2 separate regions of the Homo sapiens genome follow, and region 2 is linked to region 1. Evidence: fine-mapped expression QTL. Tissue or cell type: whole blood. Region 1 holds a variant in brackets; the other region holds the start of a gene. All regions are shown on one strand. Distances are from middle to middle.

Region 1 (8,099 bases):
TGCGGCGCGTGCCCCTCACCCTAGCCCGGGGCTGTCCTGCCTCGTGGGGAGTGTGAAGGCCATGCCCGGCGCCGCGGCCCTGGTGCCCCTGTTCCACTGGGACCCTGGGGGGCGCCGCCAGGCCCCTTGGCCTCTTCCTCGGGGCCCTCGGGACCCAGGGGCCGGTGGTGGCCGTGCCGGGGACTCGGGCGTGAGGGGTGGAGATCGCGGCCCCGGTGCAGCAGCTCAGAACCTGGACTCTGGATCGCTGCTCCCCAGCGCCCGGGGTGCCGCTTCCCACAGGGTTCAGCTCCCATGCAGGCTGCGCTCACCAGTGGAAGTGGGTCCACCCGGTCCCAGGAGAGCCAGAGCCCCGTGGCAGTCGCTGTGGGGTGTGCTCCGCACAGGCCAGAGAGCCGGCCCAAAAACCTGAGGTTTGCAAAGCCTCTTTCTTTCTTTTTTTTTTTTTGAGAAAACGTCTCTGTCGCCCAGGCTGGAGAGCAGTGACACGACCTCGGCTCACTGCAACCTCCGCCTCCCGGGTTCAAGCAATTCTTGTACCTCAGCCTCCCGAGTAACTGGGATTACAGGCGTGTGCCACCACGCCCGGCTAATTTTTGTATTTTTAATAGAGACAGCGTTTCACCACGTTGGCCACGCTGGTCTCAAACTCCTGACCTGAGGTGATCTGCCCGTCTCGGCATCCCAAAGTGCTGGGATTACAGGTTCAGTGAGCCATTGCGCCCGGCCCAAAGCCTCTTTCTTTTCAGTGCTGAGCTGGATAAAGTCTACCAAACTGAAAGGTCTCCAAGGCTATAGCTGGCTGTCTGAGAAATTATGGTGTTTGTTTAGCCCATCTTAGGACTTGGGCTATCCCAGGTGACTGAGTTTTGCTGTTTCACACCTCCCAAGGTTCTTCTCATTCTTCCTTTTCTCCATTAATGGTAACTTGTCTTCTCAATTGCTCAGGCCAGAAACCTCCGTTACCATCTTTTCTTACGTGTTTCACATCCAAACCATCAGCACATCCGGGTGGCTCTGCCTTCAAGATAGATCCAGAAGCTAGGTCCTTTCCACTGCCTCCACCACGGCCACCTGGCCCAGGCCACCCTCCTCTGCCACAAGGGTTTTTGCCATTGCCCTCCCTGGCTTCCTGTGGTTGCAGTCAGAGACCTCGTCCCTCCCACTCAGCCTTCTCGAGGGCTTCTGTCTGCTCAGAGTCAAGGTCACGGCCCTTCCGAGGGGTGAGGATCTCCTTCCCCTGGCCACACTGGCCTCCTGTTCCTCTCCAGCAAGACCAGGCCTACGTACCCAGGACCTCCGTCTCTGGCACTTCCACCTGGTCTGCTCTTCTCCAGGGTAGCTGCAGGGACCCTGATCCCCTGCCTGGTCTGTGCACACTTCTCAGGGAGGGTGTCCTTGTCCCTTTTGGGTAGGTTTTCACAGTGCCCCAACAGCCCTGTCTCCCTTTCTGCCTCATCTCCTAATGTACATTCAGTTCTGCATCATTCACTCATTTCTTGTGTATTGTCTGCCCTCGCTAGGATGTATGCTCCGTAGGGATGTATGACTGTTCCGTCAGCTTCTCCCTGGAAGAGTGTCCAGCACGTTGAATGATGAAAGAATTGATCAGCTATGATAGATCACAAGCCTCGTTCCAGAGGCCACACATTGGATTCAGAAGCTTCTATTCCTTATCTCCGTGAAAGATTGCAACGAAAATCTTGATTTAAAAATTCTCTTATTGTCTAATTAGGAAAGTTTTATTGAAGTCCAAATATTCCCATCCTCACCTTCCCACTTTTCACCGGGAGTCTGAGGAGGAAATACTGATATAAAAAATTTTTAAATCATCATTTAAGAAAAACAAAAAAGGAAATACTGAAAGACCACAGGCCAGTCTGGAAAAGGAGCGGACTCTCCCACTCTCCTGCTTCAGGTCACCTATGTTTGCCCTGTGCAGCCAGCAGGCAGAGTGCTCATTACCTGCTCTCCACCCTCGGTTCTCACTCTGGGCCCCAGGGCTCGGCCACTGGGCCAGGCCACATGTGCGGCCCTCCTTGGTTCCAAGCTGTTCTTGGACGTGGTCTCCTCCACCCCCAGAGCCTTTGCTTTCCTTTCCCCCGATCTTCTTTTCCCAGACTTCCTGGAATTTATAATCCAAAGGTTGTGTAATTTCAGAAGCTGCGATGGTTCCAAGAACTCCTGTCCCCGTCAGTCCGTCTTCTGCTTGCGCGGGCCTGGAGGAGACACTGGGGGTCAGTCCTGATCCCGTCCCCATCAGTCTGTCTTCTGCTTTTGCGGGCCTGGAGGAGACGCCGGGGGTCAGTCCTGATCCTGTCCCCGTCAGCTGTCTTCTGCTTGCGCGGGCCTGGAGGAGACACTGGGGGTCAGTCCAATCCTGTCCCCATCAGTCCGTCTTCTGCTTGCGCGGGCCTGGAGGAGACACTGGGCATCAGTCCGATCCTGTCCCCGTCAGTCCGTCTTCTGCTTGCGCGGGCCTGGAGGAGACACTGGGGGTCAGTCCTGATCCTGTCCCCGTCAGTCCGTCTTCTGCTTGCGCGGGCCTGGAGGAGACGCCGGGGGTCAGTCCTGATGTGCAGGCCGGTCTCTGTGCTTGGGCATCTTTGGGCTCCGTAGATGAGGCTTGTGCGGCCACAGAGCTGCTTCTGTCCCTGCTGCTGCTCCTGGGTGTCAGTGTCCGTTCTGTCAATTGAAGCACTGAGACTTGAGGGTTAAGCAGGCCTGGGAAGCAGGTCTTTGGGATTGCCTCTGGGGATCAGTCCTTCTCTTCCAGCGCCCCTGATGGGTAGCATGCAGTGGGGCTTTCCTGTGGTCCCCGCACAGGTCTCCCTTAGAAAATGAGTAAGAGCAGGGCCCGTGCATCCAGCCAGGGTGAGGGTCATGTGAGTGAATCCTGAAAAGCCGCTCGGGAGCACCCAGTCCTTGCTGAGCGAGGCAGGAAGCAGGGGTCCCTTTGAGTTCGCCCAGCAGAACAGCCAACCCAGCGGCCCCTCCCTGCTGTCCTGTCACTGCACCCCCACCTCTGAGTTCCAGGCCTGTGGTGTCATCCTTCACACTTAGTGGGATGAGAGACTGAACCCCACAGGAGACCTTCTAAAGGGGTCTCCTGGCCACTACACAGGCTGCTGTGAAGCCCCAGCCCCTCCTCAGGGAAGCGGGGTCTTACTTCCCTTTTAAACCCCGCCTGCCCCTGGGCCCTCACACTCTGGCTGCTCCGAGACCCTGCATCCCCTTTCATTTTCTCCC[TG/G]ATGCTCTTTGTCTCCTTCACACACTCTTCACGCCAGGGCACCGTGCCTCCCGTGTGAGCTGCTTTCAGCCTTGCTGTAGGACATGGAGGACCCCTGAGCTATTTGGGGTCACAAGGAAGCTGTTAGTATGTGGTTCTCATATTCTTAACTGTACAAGAAAGCAAAAGCCCCTTGAGGTCCCTCAGTATCCCTTCCCACCACCTGCACCCCACAGGTGGAGAAATTGCCTGCTTTTAGGGAGATAGCAGTGTAGGCCTCTTTGCTTGCGCCCTGCCTGGCCCCTGTTGGATCTCTTTTCTCTGCAGGAACTGCAGAGGCTTCTGAAGCTGGATCTTTCACTATGACATTTACAGTTGCTTGACCATTTTCTCCCGCTCTTGACAGGTCCCCCAGGATTAGCTGTGGCCACCAGAAGCAAGCGTCGATATGGAACGTGCATTCTGCTTAAAGCTCAGCAAGGCATGGTTGGAGGGAGGCCACTGATAGTCTCATTCTTTTGTCCTCAGAGCCCCCCAAGATGAACCCAGTGGTGGAGCCACTGTCCTGGATGCTGGGCACCTGGCTGTCGGACCCACCTGGAGCCGGGACCTACCCCACACTGCAGCCCTTCCAGTACCTGGAGGAGGTTCACATCTCCCACGTGGGCCAGCCCATGCTGAACTTCTCGTAAGTTGTCTCCCTCCACCCCACCCTGCTTGACTCATGGGCCGCCTAGGTCTCTGAAAATAATTCCAGACTGATCAAAGACAAAGGCCAAGCAGGAAGGTGTAAAAGGAACTTGTCCATCTATTTCAGAAAGGTGTCCTCTTGCCTGAATGTGCAACTGAGACACAGAGTGGTAAAAATGATACTTTCTGGTTCTGTTATATTTTTGGAGATATTAAGCTGACCACCAAATTACAGGCTTGTTAATCCAAACATAAAAACAAATGCATGTACTTAATTTATGTATCAAAATTAATCACCCTGGCCAGTGCGGTAGCTCATACCTGTAATCCCAGCACTTTAGAGGCTGAGTCAGGAGGATTGCTTGAGCTTAGGAATTGAAGACCAGCCTGGGCAACATAGTGAGACCTTGTCTCTACTGAAAAGTATTTAGCCAGGTGTGGTGACACATGCCTGTAGTCCCAGCTACTCGAGAAACTGAGGTGGGAGGATTGCTTGAACCCAGGGAGGGCCAAGGCTACAGTGAGCTGTGATCATAACACTGTACTCCAGCCTGGGTGACAGAGTGAGAACCTGTCTCAAAAAAAAAAAGAAAAAAATTAGTCACCCAATATTACTGAAAATAATAGTGCATGTTTGTATTTTACACGTACCCCTGAGCTATTTGGGGTCACAAGGAAGCTGTTAGTATGTGGTTCTCATATTCTTACCGTACAAGAAAGCAAAAGCCCCTTGAGGTCCCTCAGTATCCCTTCCCACCACCTGCTCCCCACAGGTGGAGAAATTGCCTGCTTTTAGGGAGATAGCAGTGTAGGCCTCTGAAGTAGAGGAGAGCCACCAGGGATGGGGAGTGGTTGAAGTATCTTTATTTTTTAATTATAGAAGTAATACACAGTTTTTTTAAAGTTTAAACAAAATATAAAAAGCAAACCCTCCCTTAGTCTCCATTACACAACTATATGTTAAGAATCTTATTAAACCAACTTGGTACTATTTGTATAATGCCTAGCAGTTTCAGAACGGGGCTGGGCACCTGGCTCTCAGACCCCCAGCTCTGAGACCCTCCATCCCCTTTTAGAAGATCTCATTGTTTTTAAAAATATCTCCTACCTTTTTATATTATTATTGATTGAATGCATGAGGTCAAAGTAATACATCTGCACATAAACCAAAAGGTGAGAATTCTGGGTAATACAAAATAACCCAGAACCCAAGCAGTCTTTTTTAAACTATAGATTATAACCCACGAAAAGGTCAGAAAGTCAATTTTGTGACTAGCATTCGAAGAAAAATGAACCAGAGTGGAAAATATATTTCAGTAAATGTGATGGTATGTGTGTTTGTGTGTGTGTCCTAGAATATGGTATAAATGTATTTCTTTGTCGGGGTTATGTTAGTGAGCATGTACCATTCTAGAAGGTGTAGCACCATCACTAGCCCAACAGAAATTTATCTTGGCCCAGCGCGGTGGCTCGTGCCTGTAATCCCAGCACTTTGGGAGGCCAAGGCGGGTGGATCACTTGAGTCCAGGAGTCCAAGACCAGCCTGGGCAACACAGTGAGACCCTAAAAAAATTTGTTTTAATAAATAAATAAGTTTATCTTGGCCAGGTGCGGTGGCTGACGCCTGTAATCCCAGCACTTTGGGAGGTCAAGGCAGGTGGATCACTAGAAGTCAAGAGTTCGAGACCAGCCTGGCCAATGTGGTGAAATTGTGTCTCTACTAAAAAAAAATACAAAAATACAAAAATTAGCCGGGTGTGTGGCTGGGCACAGTGGCTCACACCTGTAATCCCAGCACTTTGAGAGGCTGAGGTGGGCAGATCACCTGAGGTTGGGAGTTCAAGATCAGCCTGACCAACATGGAGAAACCTGGTCTCTACTAAAATTACAAAATTAGCCGGGCATGGTGGCGCATGCCTGTAATCCCAGCTACTCGGTAAGGCTGAGGCAGGAGAATCGCTTGAACTCAGGAGGCGGAGGTTGCAGTGAGCCAAGATAGCGCCATTGCACTCCAGCCTGGGCAACAAGAGAGAAACTCTGTCTCAAAAAATAAATAAATAAATAAATAAATAAATTAGCCGGGTGTGGTGGGCGCCTGTAATCCCAGCTACTCAGGAGGCTGAGACAGGAGAATCATTTCAACCCAGGAAGCGGAGGTTTCACTGAGCTGAGACCGCGACGAGCCTGGGTGACAGAGCAAAAAAATAAATAAATAAAGTTTATCTCTAAGAATCATAGAGATGGATTCCCTATAGAAACTCATAAGGTTGGTGAAATGATAAATGAGGCTTTTTTTTTTTTGGTTTGGTTTTTTTGTTTTTATTTTTGTAGAAACAGGGTCTGTGTTGCCCAGCCCTGTCTCAAATTCCTAGGCTCAAGAGATCTACCCGACTGGGCCCCTGAAGTGCTGGGATTACGGCCTTGAGTCACCATGCCAGCGAGTTAGTTTTTAAGCCGTGGTTTTGTGCCCTCAGTTCAAGATGCAGGTGCCTGTCTTTTACTGTTGAGAATTTGCACTAATGATGAAGGGTGATAAGAAACCATACCATAACTCAGCACCTGTTCTGTTTTTTACCGTAGGAATTGATTAGATTCTTACACAAGAGCATAGCTCAAAAGAGAAAGATTGTGTTAGGGTGAGGTTTACTGCAAGGGAGTGCTGAGGGCTGACACTGTGTGAGGCCTGGGCTAACGGGCCCAGGGCAAGGATATGCCCTGAGGTGATTAAGAACAGTGCTGTCTTCAGGAGCTGAGGGTCAGCAGGCAAGACAGACACAGCCAAAATGAGCAAGGTGGTGGAGGGGGCGGGCAGGTGTGCGGGTGTGGCTGGAACAGCCCGTCTTCAGGAGCTGAGGGTCAGCAGGTAAGACAGACACAGCCAAAATGAGCAAGGCGCTGGAGGGGGCGGGCAGGTGTGCGGGTGTGGCTGGAACAGCCCGTCTTCAGGAGCTGAGGGTCAGCAGGCAAGACAGACACAGCCAAAATGAGCAAGGTGGTGGAGGGGGCGGGCAGGTGTGTGGGCGTGGCTGGAACAGCCCGTCTTCAGGAGTGGAGGGTCAGCAGGTAAGACAGACACAGCCAAAATGAGCAAGGTGGTGGTAGGGGCAGACAGGTGTGCGGGTGTGGCTGGAGCAGCCACCTGGAGGGCACCCTGGACAGTTCTGGCATCCACGCAGCCCACGCCATCTTGGAGGCCAGTGCCTGGGCTTCTCAACTCCAACTTCCCGTCCAGGTTCAACTCCTTCCACCCGGACACGCGCAAGCCGATGCACAGAGAGTGTGGCTTCATTCGCCTCAAGCCCGACACCAACAAGGTGGCCTTTGTCAGCGCCCAGAACACAGGTGAGGCCCAGCTTGCGGGGCGGGAGGGCTGGCCATGGGAGGCTGCTGCCTGCATTCGAAGCAGGGGTGCAGGGATGCCCATGTGCAACCCTGCTGAGGCATGTGCTGGTGGGGACCGTGGGGATGGCCCTGAGTGTTGAGAGTGGTCCTGGGAGCCTGCGGGGCCGACTGTGTAGCTGTAGGGGCCTCCGGCACACAGGTTGTGTGCGTGCAGCCCCCTGACCATGAGGGCCCGTTTACCCAGTGCCACGTCTGCAGAAATGGCCATCAGCTGTGTGCATTCATTAGGAATTGCTGGAAAACAGGTTGGGCACAGTGGCTCACGCCTGTAATCCCAGCACTTTGGGAGGCCTAGGTGGGCAGATCACTTGAGGTCAGGAGTTCAAGACCAGCCTGGCCAACATACTGAAATCCCGTCTCTACTAAAAATACAAAAATTAGCTGGGTGTGGTGGTGCATGCCTGTAATCCCAAGCCACTTGGGAGGCTGAGGCAGGAGAATCACTTGAACCTGGGAGGCAGAGGTTGCGGTGAGCCAAGAATGCGCCACTGCACTCCAGCCTGGGCAACAGAGCGAGATTCTGTCTCAAAAAAAAAAGAAAAAAAAAAAAACCAGCCTGCGTGACTCTAGATCAGTGTTTCTTCCTGGACGTCCATTCCCACCTGCGACTTCTGCCACTGTATGTGCTAGGGGTGGTTCTGCCAGGCTGATTGGTGGGTGGAGGTGGGAGGGCTGGGGCCCAGTCTGGAGAGGGTGGCCTTCCATAGAGCACCTGCCTGTTCTGTGAGGAGAGTTGTGGCTTTCCCTCCGTATCCACAGGGTGAAGTGGGGAGGAGGA
Region 2 (8,083 bases), 48 kb after region 1:
ACCGGTGGGCACTGGGCAGCGCCAGGATGGGTGGGGGCCAGCTCGTGGGGTCCCTGTGAGCCTGAGCCACAGACCCTGGATCCCTCCCTGAGGTCCCATGGGACGGGCAGGCTGGGCATACCTGCAGAGAAGATGTGGCCAGCCACGGCCAGGAACGCATCGGTCACCACAGGCTCAGACTGCAGGGAGATGTGCAGCTGACGCGCCACGTTGCGGTAGACGCTGGGCCGGATCATCTCCAGCTCATCGCCTGTGTGGTCACAAGAGCAGGTGAGAGGCAGCCCACGTCCCAGCTTCCTGGGACACGACTGGCTTGGGGCACACCCTGCACCTGACCCCCACCTGACCATGCTTGAATTCCAGCCTGTTCCTCACTTGTCTGATTCCCACCTCCACTTGACCCCATCTGACCTCCCTTGGGCCATCCCCCAACCTTGGCCCCTAGGGACCAGAAGACCAAGGAAGTACTGAAGGCGCCCCCAGTCCCGCCCCTCTGACGAGCCAGCCCCTAAGCCTAGCCGGCCAAGCCGGTGGGGCGGGAATCCTGCGAGAGCGTGGGCCGTGCCTGCTGGTGACTCACAGCCGACAGGCAGCCGAGCTGCCCAGAGCAGGAGGGACCAGGCAGACGGCCAGACCCCGACGTGGGGAGGGGCTGGGCAGAGAAAGCACTGGGGTGAGAGCAGGGGAGCCCGACGTGGGGAGGGGCTGGGCAGAGAAAGCATTGGGGTGAGAGCAGGGGACAGCCCGAGAGCCCGGCTCAGGCCCTAGCATGGCTCAGGGACCACTCAGATGCAGAGGCTGAGCCGCTGTCCTGGGCCACCCGCACTGCCACGCTCCCACCTGGGCTGGCTGGGCCGCTGTCCTGGGCCACCCGCACTGCCACGCTCCCACCTGGGCTGGCTGGGCCCCTGTCCTGGGCCACCCGCACTGCCACGCTCCCACCTGGGCTGGCTGGGCCGCTGTCCTGGGCCACCCGCACTGCCACGCTCCCACCTGGGCTGGCTGGGCCCCTGTCCTGGGCCACCCGCACTGCCACGCTCCCACCTGGGCTGGCTGGGCCGCTGTCCTGGGCCACCCGCACTGCCACGCTCCCACCTGGGCTGGCTGGGCCCCTGTCCTGGGCCACCCGCACTGCCACGCTCCCACCTGGGCTGGCTGGGCCGCTGTCCTGGGCCACCCTCACTGCCACGCTCCCACCTGGGCTCTTGCTGCCAAGGGGATGTGCTTGGAGGTGGCACTGCATCAGCCCTGCCCCTGGCAGCCGAGGATGGCCCCTACAGGCCCACCGCCCCAGTGCTGCCTGTGGCACCCTTGGCAGCAGCAGCGCACAGGCACGGGGCAGATGGTGCCGAGAATGCCACAGGGCCCTGGGATTGGGAGTCCGCAGCCCGGCCAGTTCTCCAGCCAAAGCAAACAGGGTAATGCTGCTGACCGGACCATCCCAGCTGATAAAGGCTGCTCTGTATCTCATTAATTAAGATCTGGAAGCAGAGCAGAGCCCATGAGAGGCTGGCTGGGGGCGGGGGACGACATGGAAATTCCCAGGACTGACCCGGCAGCTCCCAAACACAGATCTCCGGGGCTGCTGCAGGCTGGCCCCAGACTGAAGGTGGGGACACAACCCGGGCTTCTTCCTGTCTGCACTGCCCAAGGGCAGGGAGACAGCGCTGGCCTCAAGGGACTGACCCTGAGCAGCCGTGAGGGCAGATGCAGGTCTGAGCTGTGTCCCTCTGGGGTCCCCCTAGACATCTGGGACTTCTTCCCAGCCATTCCAGGGGTCTGGCATCATCTTTTCAGAAGGCCACTAAAAGGATCCCCTAGGGTCATTCTCAGAGCCCGACTAGAGGCAGCAGCAGGCGGCGGATCTCATGGAGCCCCACCAACCCCCTAGCTCCCACCCAGAGACCTCTCCCTCCTTCTGAACTTCTCAGATGGGACTCCACCTCCTCCTGGAGGCTCTGTGCTGGTCCCCATGGATTCTGTCTGCACCCCACACACACTCCTGGGCAGGCCAGGTCTACACAGCTTTGCTCTCTGGGCCCAGCCCACCACGTAAGGGCAGGGGCCACCTAGAGCCCATGCCAGCGCCAGCCTGAGAGGAGGCAGCGTGTCCCCTCACGGGGTCGTGCCCTCCGACTCCAACCCCCTGCCTGGAGAGCCACCGATTCAGTTTCACCTATGCTGTCACCTCCCCTTCCCGGGCTCAGCCACAGGCGCCCCATGTGCCCTCTTCGGGCATCACATAAACATTCCCAGGTGACGGCCACAGCCCAGCTGTGGTGAGGGGACTGGACAGTCACAGTGGGGCTGGTCCCTCCCTCTTGGGTCCAGACCTTGGAGACGGTGGGGGCAGCCAGTGGACCGTGTGTGACCCCAGAACCGAGCACCCCCAGATGTCCTCACAGCACCAACGAATACTGAGGTTTTGGCTACCCAGCCCGGTGGGCGCAGTTTCCAATGGGGGGGCCTCGGAGGCCTCGGAATCCAGAGGGCAGCGGGCGGGATCTCGGCCAGTAACAGCAAGAATCTGTTTTCCAAAATAAACATCGGGACACGTGCTCCTACAAAGGGTTTCTGTGCCCAGCTGAGAACAAGGGTCACTGTGGAAGCTTAGCCACCCACTAATAGATTATTCTTTCTGGAGCTTTCTATTGTTTATGGCCAGCATGACTGAAATCTGGGCTGAGCAGGCAGCTGATGGGGGGGCCTGTGGCGTGGGAGGCCTGAGAGGGCAGATCCGGGAGCACCCGCCTGGGTGGCCCTGTCCCGAGCGCCTGGCCGTCCCAGGCAGGGGGTGGGCGCCCCTGGGCCGGACCCCCATCTCGGCCTCGGAGGGAGGCTGCGGCCCAGCAGGGGAGGAGGCGCAGCTGGGGATCCCACCAGGGCGCACTCACCCAGGCGCAGCAGCACCGCGCACACCTCAGCCAGGCGTCCCGGGACCGGCGCGGCACGCTCGGGCGCGCTCCAGGAGAGGCCGGCGCGCAGCAGCCGCGCGTGCACGTACTCCCGGCCCAGCGCCTTGGCCTGGGCCACCAGCTCCTTGTCTGTGGGCGAGCGGTCAAAGGCGTCCATGATCTCGGCGGCGAAGACCGAGGAGCGCCGCAGCACCTCCATGGCGGCGACGCGGGTGGGGGGCGCCGCACCTGCGGGCACAAGCGCTCAGCCGGGTGGAGGGAGGCGGCGCGGGGAACGGGGCGCGCGGGGCGCCGGGCTGGGCGTGGCCCTCGGGAAGGGCCGTAGCCGGCGCCGGGTCCGCTCTCGTTTTTTGTGCCCCAAATCTTTAAAAACCCAGCGCCACCTTCTTTCAGAGCCCGAATTCAGCTACAGACATTCCCCGAGGCTGCCAGGGACCGGTGGGGCCGCGGGGAGACGGCGGTTTGCTCCGGGGCCGCCGGGCCCGCCCTCGAAGACGAGTGCGTGGGCGGCGGGGGCGGAGGGCACAGCCCAGCGCGTCCCCCACGGCGACTGCCAGGACCCGGCCCTCCCCGCCCCGGCCCGGGGCCGCCCACCTCCGCCGCTGGCGTCCTGCGCGCGTGTCCCCGGCCTCGCCGTTCCCGTGGCACCCCGGGCACCCCGGCACGGACGCCACGCCCGCCGCGCTCACCTCTCCCGCCGCATGGCGCGGGCGCCGGGGTGGAGTTCTGGCTTCAGGATCTGCTCGCCGCCGACGACGACCTCGACCCTTCCATTCAGACCCGCGAGGACGCGCGCCCCGCCCCGGCGCCCGCCCCGTCCACGCCCGAGCCGGGAGCGCCAGGTCCACGGGGCTTCCCGCGCTCTTGGGGGGCTCCTGCCGCGGCGTCGGGGGCCTGGGCAGCGAGGTGGGCAGCGCGCGACTCCCAGCTGGCGAGAGGCTGGGCTTGGGGCTTGGCCTTCTAAGGGAAAGGCAACCCTGGGGGCGGAGTCGGGGAGACGCTTTCCGAGCTTCCCCGCTTAAGGAGGACCGAGCGAGTTCCCTGGATGCGCCCGGAGAAGGCGACCAGGCCGGAGCGGCCCCCGCAAGGCAGAGCAGTGGGGACCTAGAGCCAGCCCCAGCCGCCTGGGTGTTCCCCGGGGTCCATTTGAAAATTGGGTTGTCTTCTTCGTTCGTAGAGGTTCTTTCCAGAGTCTGGAGACGTGTTCTTGGTCCGGACGCATGCCCTTTGTATTGTAGATGGATTATTGGATTCGCATTTATTGAAGTTATTGCAAATATCTTCCTCTATTTTGTGGTTTACTTTTGCTTTGGATGAACAGGAGTTACTCTTAGTGATGTCCAATTTATCAATATTTTCTTTATGGTTAGTACCTTTTTATTGGGATATCCTCCTGTATTTCCTTTTAGAAGCTTGTTTTAGGGCTCATATTTAGATCTATGATTGATTACATATTAATTATTGTGAATGGTGTGGTACGGGGCTAGAGCTCATTTTTTTTCGTGTAGATATCCAATTGACCTGGCATCATTTATTGAAAAGCATCATTTTTTTTCCACCGAATTGGAGGAGTCCCCAACATCTCAACATAAATCAGCTGAAGAGTGTGTGTGTGTGTGTGTGTGTGTCTCGGAACTCTATCCCACTGGTTTATTTCTTTATCCTTGAATCAACCTCACACAGTTTGAACAATAGGATTAACCAACTTGGCCTAATTCACGTGTGTACAACACTATAAAATACTTATTCTTCCCATGTGCACATAGGATGTTTATCGAAATAGACCATATCATGGACCTTATACAAGTCTCAGCAAATCTCAACGGATTGAAATCTTACAGTGTGTCCTCTCTGAATTAAAAGTCAATAACAGAAAAATTACTGGAAAATCTGCAAATGCTTGGAAATTACATGTCACACTTCTAAATAATCAATGGGTCAATAATCACAGTGGAAGATTAAAATATGTTGACAAGAACAGTGAAAAATAAGACATATCAAATGCTGTACAGTGCAACTAAAACACTGCTTAGAGGAAATTTGATAGCTTTAGAAGAAGGATTGAAAATTAGGCCAGGTGAAATGACTCAGACCTGTAATCCCAGCATTTTGGGAGGCCTAGGTGGGCAGATCACCTGAGCTCAGGAGTTTGAGACCAGCCGGGTCAAAATGGTGAAAACCCCGTCTCTACTAGAGATACAAAAAATGAGTTGGGTGTGGTGGCAGGTGTCTGTAATCCCAGCTACTAAGGAGGCTGAGGCAGGAGAATTGCTTGAACCTGGGAGGCGAAGGTTGCAGTGAGCAGAGATCATCCCACCTGCACTCCAGCCTGGACAACAGAGTGTGATTCCATCTCAAAAAAAAAAAAAAAAAAGGAAAAAGAAAAATAAAATTACTGCTCTAAGCTTCCACTCAAGAAGCTAGAAAAGAACAATAAAACTAAAGATGAAAGGAAATAATAAAAATAAGAGCAGAAATTAATGGAATAAAGCAAAAAATAGAGAAAATCAACAAAGCCAAAAATTGGTTCTTTGAAGAGATTAATAGAACTGATAAATCCCCAGAAAGATTGAGTAAGAAAAAAGATAACACAAATTTCACTATCAAGAATGAAAAAGAGGACATCACTGTAGATACTACAAGCATTAAAGGGATAAAAAGATAGTATGGAGGACTTTTTGACAGTGCATTTGAAATTTTAGATGATACACAACTTACCAAAACTGACACTAAAAGAAATAGAAAATCTGGATAGTCCTACACCAATTAAATGCATTGAATCTGTAATTTAAAATCTTCCCACAAAGAAAATTCTAGGTTCAGATGGTTTCATTGAGAAATTCTTCTCAACAGTTAAAAAAATACCACCAGTCTCATACAAACCTGCACAGAGACTAAAAATGAGGGAGTATTTCCCAACTCATTTTATGAGGTCAATGTAATTTTAATACCGAAACCTGTCAGGAACATTACCAGAAGCTAGGAAAGCTATGGAACTTCTATCTGCTATGACTTTCCTGTCTGGGAAGTAGGAAGAATAATAATACCTACCTCCTAGGATTGTTGAGAGGACTGAATTCTTTTTTTTTTTTTTTTTTTTTGAGACGGAGTCTCGCTCTGTTGCCAGGCTGGAGTGCAATGGCGTAAACTCGGCTCACTGCAACCCCGCCTCCTGGGCTCCAGCGATTCTCCTGCCTCAGCCTCCCGAGTAGCTGGGACTACAGGCACCTGACACCACGCCCGGCTAATTGTTTGTATTTTTGGTAGAGAGGGGGTTTCACCATGTTGGCCAGGATGGTCTCGATCTCTTGACCTCGTGATCTACCTGCCTTGGCATCACAAAGTTCTGGGATTATAGGCGTAAGCCACAGCGCCCAGCCTGGGAGGACTGAATTCTTAATCCATGTCATGTAGTAAGTGCTCAGTCATTGTTAGCTGCTTTTTCAGAAAAGCTGTAGTACAGTAAAATCTGAGGGTGCATTTTAATGAACTCTTTAATGTAGAGTCTAGAGCTCCTTGGACAGTGTGCGCCTCAGATTTCTGAAGAGCAGTCAGGTTTGGGATTCCCTGTAGATAGCATTACAGAAATGCAGAGAGGGAAAAGATCTCGCCCAAGGAGTCACTGCAAGACTGGGCATGGCCAGACTGTAAACCTTGGGGTCTAACTCCATGGTTCCTGAAGTACCTCTGTCAGGGGAAGAGCCTGTACTTGCAGGCAGGAGACCAGGAAGCTCACACCTGCAACCTTCCCGCTGTGTAGCCTCAGGCAACTTCCTGCCCCATTCACAGGCTCAGTTTCCTCCTGTGCAGAATGAACTCATACTTCCTGCTTCCTGTCTCCTGTTGGAGCCGTCTCCTGGGCTCTGACATGGGGGTAGTGGGCCACTGGGCATAATTGATAGACATGTTCTGCATCCCAGGAGCTGCAGAAACCAGGTAAAGCTGTGTCTCTGGATGTTCAATATGGAACATTGCTAGCAGTAAGGAACTGAAAATGACCTAAGTGTGCCAGGCGTGGTGGCTCATGCCTGTAATCCCAGCACTTTGGGAGGCTGAGGCATGTGGATCACCTGAGGTTAGGAGTTCGAGACCAGCTTGACCAACAAGGTGAGACTCCGTTTCTACTAAAAATACAAAAAATTAGCCAGGCGTGGTGGCGCATGTCTGTAATCCCAGCTACTCGGGAGGCTGAGACAGGAGAATTGCTTGAACCCAGGAGTCGGAGGTTGCGGTGAGCCGAGCTCATGCCACTGCACTCCAGCCTGGGCAACAGAACGAGACTTTGTCTCAAAAAAAAAAAAAAATGACCTCAGTGTTTATGAAGAGATCAAGCCCAGCATGGTGACACCGCACTAGTAGTCCCAGCTCCTTGGGAGACTGAAGCAAGAGGATTGCTTGAGCCCAGGAGTTCAGGGCTGTAGTGCCTGTGAATAGCCACTGCACTCAGCCTGGGCAACTTAGCAAAGACGGGTTTCTAAAACAAATTTTAAAAAGAGAGCAGATGAGGAGATTAAGCAATCTGGAGTACCTAGACCGCAAACCCTTATTCAGACCTTAAAAAACTTGGGTCATGCTGGAGTTAGCTGAGGTCTTCCTGTCCACTGAGACCTGGAGGAGGCCCAGTCCCAGCCCTCAATTTCCCAAGAGTGCTTTGACTTCTTGGGAGCCTACATTTCTCCGGTCACCTTTGGCCCTGATTTTCTGTCTCTGCAGAACTCTTACATCCACTCTTGCCATGCAACTGACTCCTCTCTCTGCCCCAGTGTTGACCTAGCATGGAACTCGGTCCCTGGTTGGTGAGTGGGCTTCTGAGCGCTGATACCAGCCCACCAGACTGGCTTAAGCACAGGGCAGTTTGTTGATTTGTGTGACCAGAGAGAGGTCGGTTGGTTTCAGGCATAGCTGGATCCAGGAGTCTCTTTCCATCTGTGCTCCCCTGTGATGGCTCCACTCTCAGACAGACTGTCCTGGTGTAATTGCAGGATAAAGCCCACAGCTCCCTGTATATACCTCACAAGTTCAGGCTTTGCCAGTGGAAAAAAGTCGGGCTGTCCAGGTAGCTCTGGGAGATCCCTTGGGGTGGGCAGCTTCTGTACTCTGTCCATTTCCAAGCCAGCTGTGGCTGGACATGGGGAAGGTGTTAAGCAGTCAGGCCTGGGTCTCATACC

Evidence for each region. PIP is the estimated chance that this variant, and not a neighbour inherited with it, causes the effect.
Region 2: it holds the start of BOK, and the variant in region 1 is fine-mapped to the expression of BOK in whole blood (TOPMed, PIP above 0.99).

What each region holds. Positions count from the first base shown.
Region 1 is chr2:241,602,132-241,610,230 of GRCh38, reverse strand. THAP4 (THAP domain containing 4) reads left to right here. Exons shown (of 6, transcript NM_015963.6): 3 at 3,758-3,917; 4 at 7,152-7,261. Among named protein-coding and RNA genes, the nearest start is that of THAP4, 31 kb to the left of the region's middle. RefSeq lists enhancers at 1-189, 190-691, 1,598-1,767 and a silencer at 1-239. The variant TG/G (reference allele first, on the strand shown) is at 3,250.
Region 2 is chr2:241,554,515-241,562,597 of GRCh38, reverse strand. It overlaps BOK (BCL2 family apoptosis regulator BOK), which reads right to left and starts at 3,853. Exons shown (of 5, transcript NM_032515.5): 1 at 3,605-3,853; 2 at 2,895-3,143; 3 at 122-250. The coding sequence starts at 3,114. It overlaps BOK-AS1 (BOK antisense RNA 1), which reads left to right and starts at 3,455. Exons shown (of 2, transcript NR_033346.1): 1 at 3,455-3,821. RefSeq lists silencers at 2,831-2,960, 3,011-3,080, 3,111-3,190.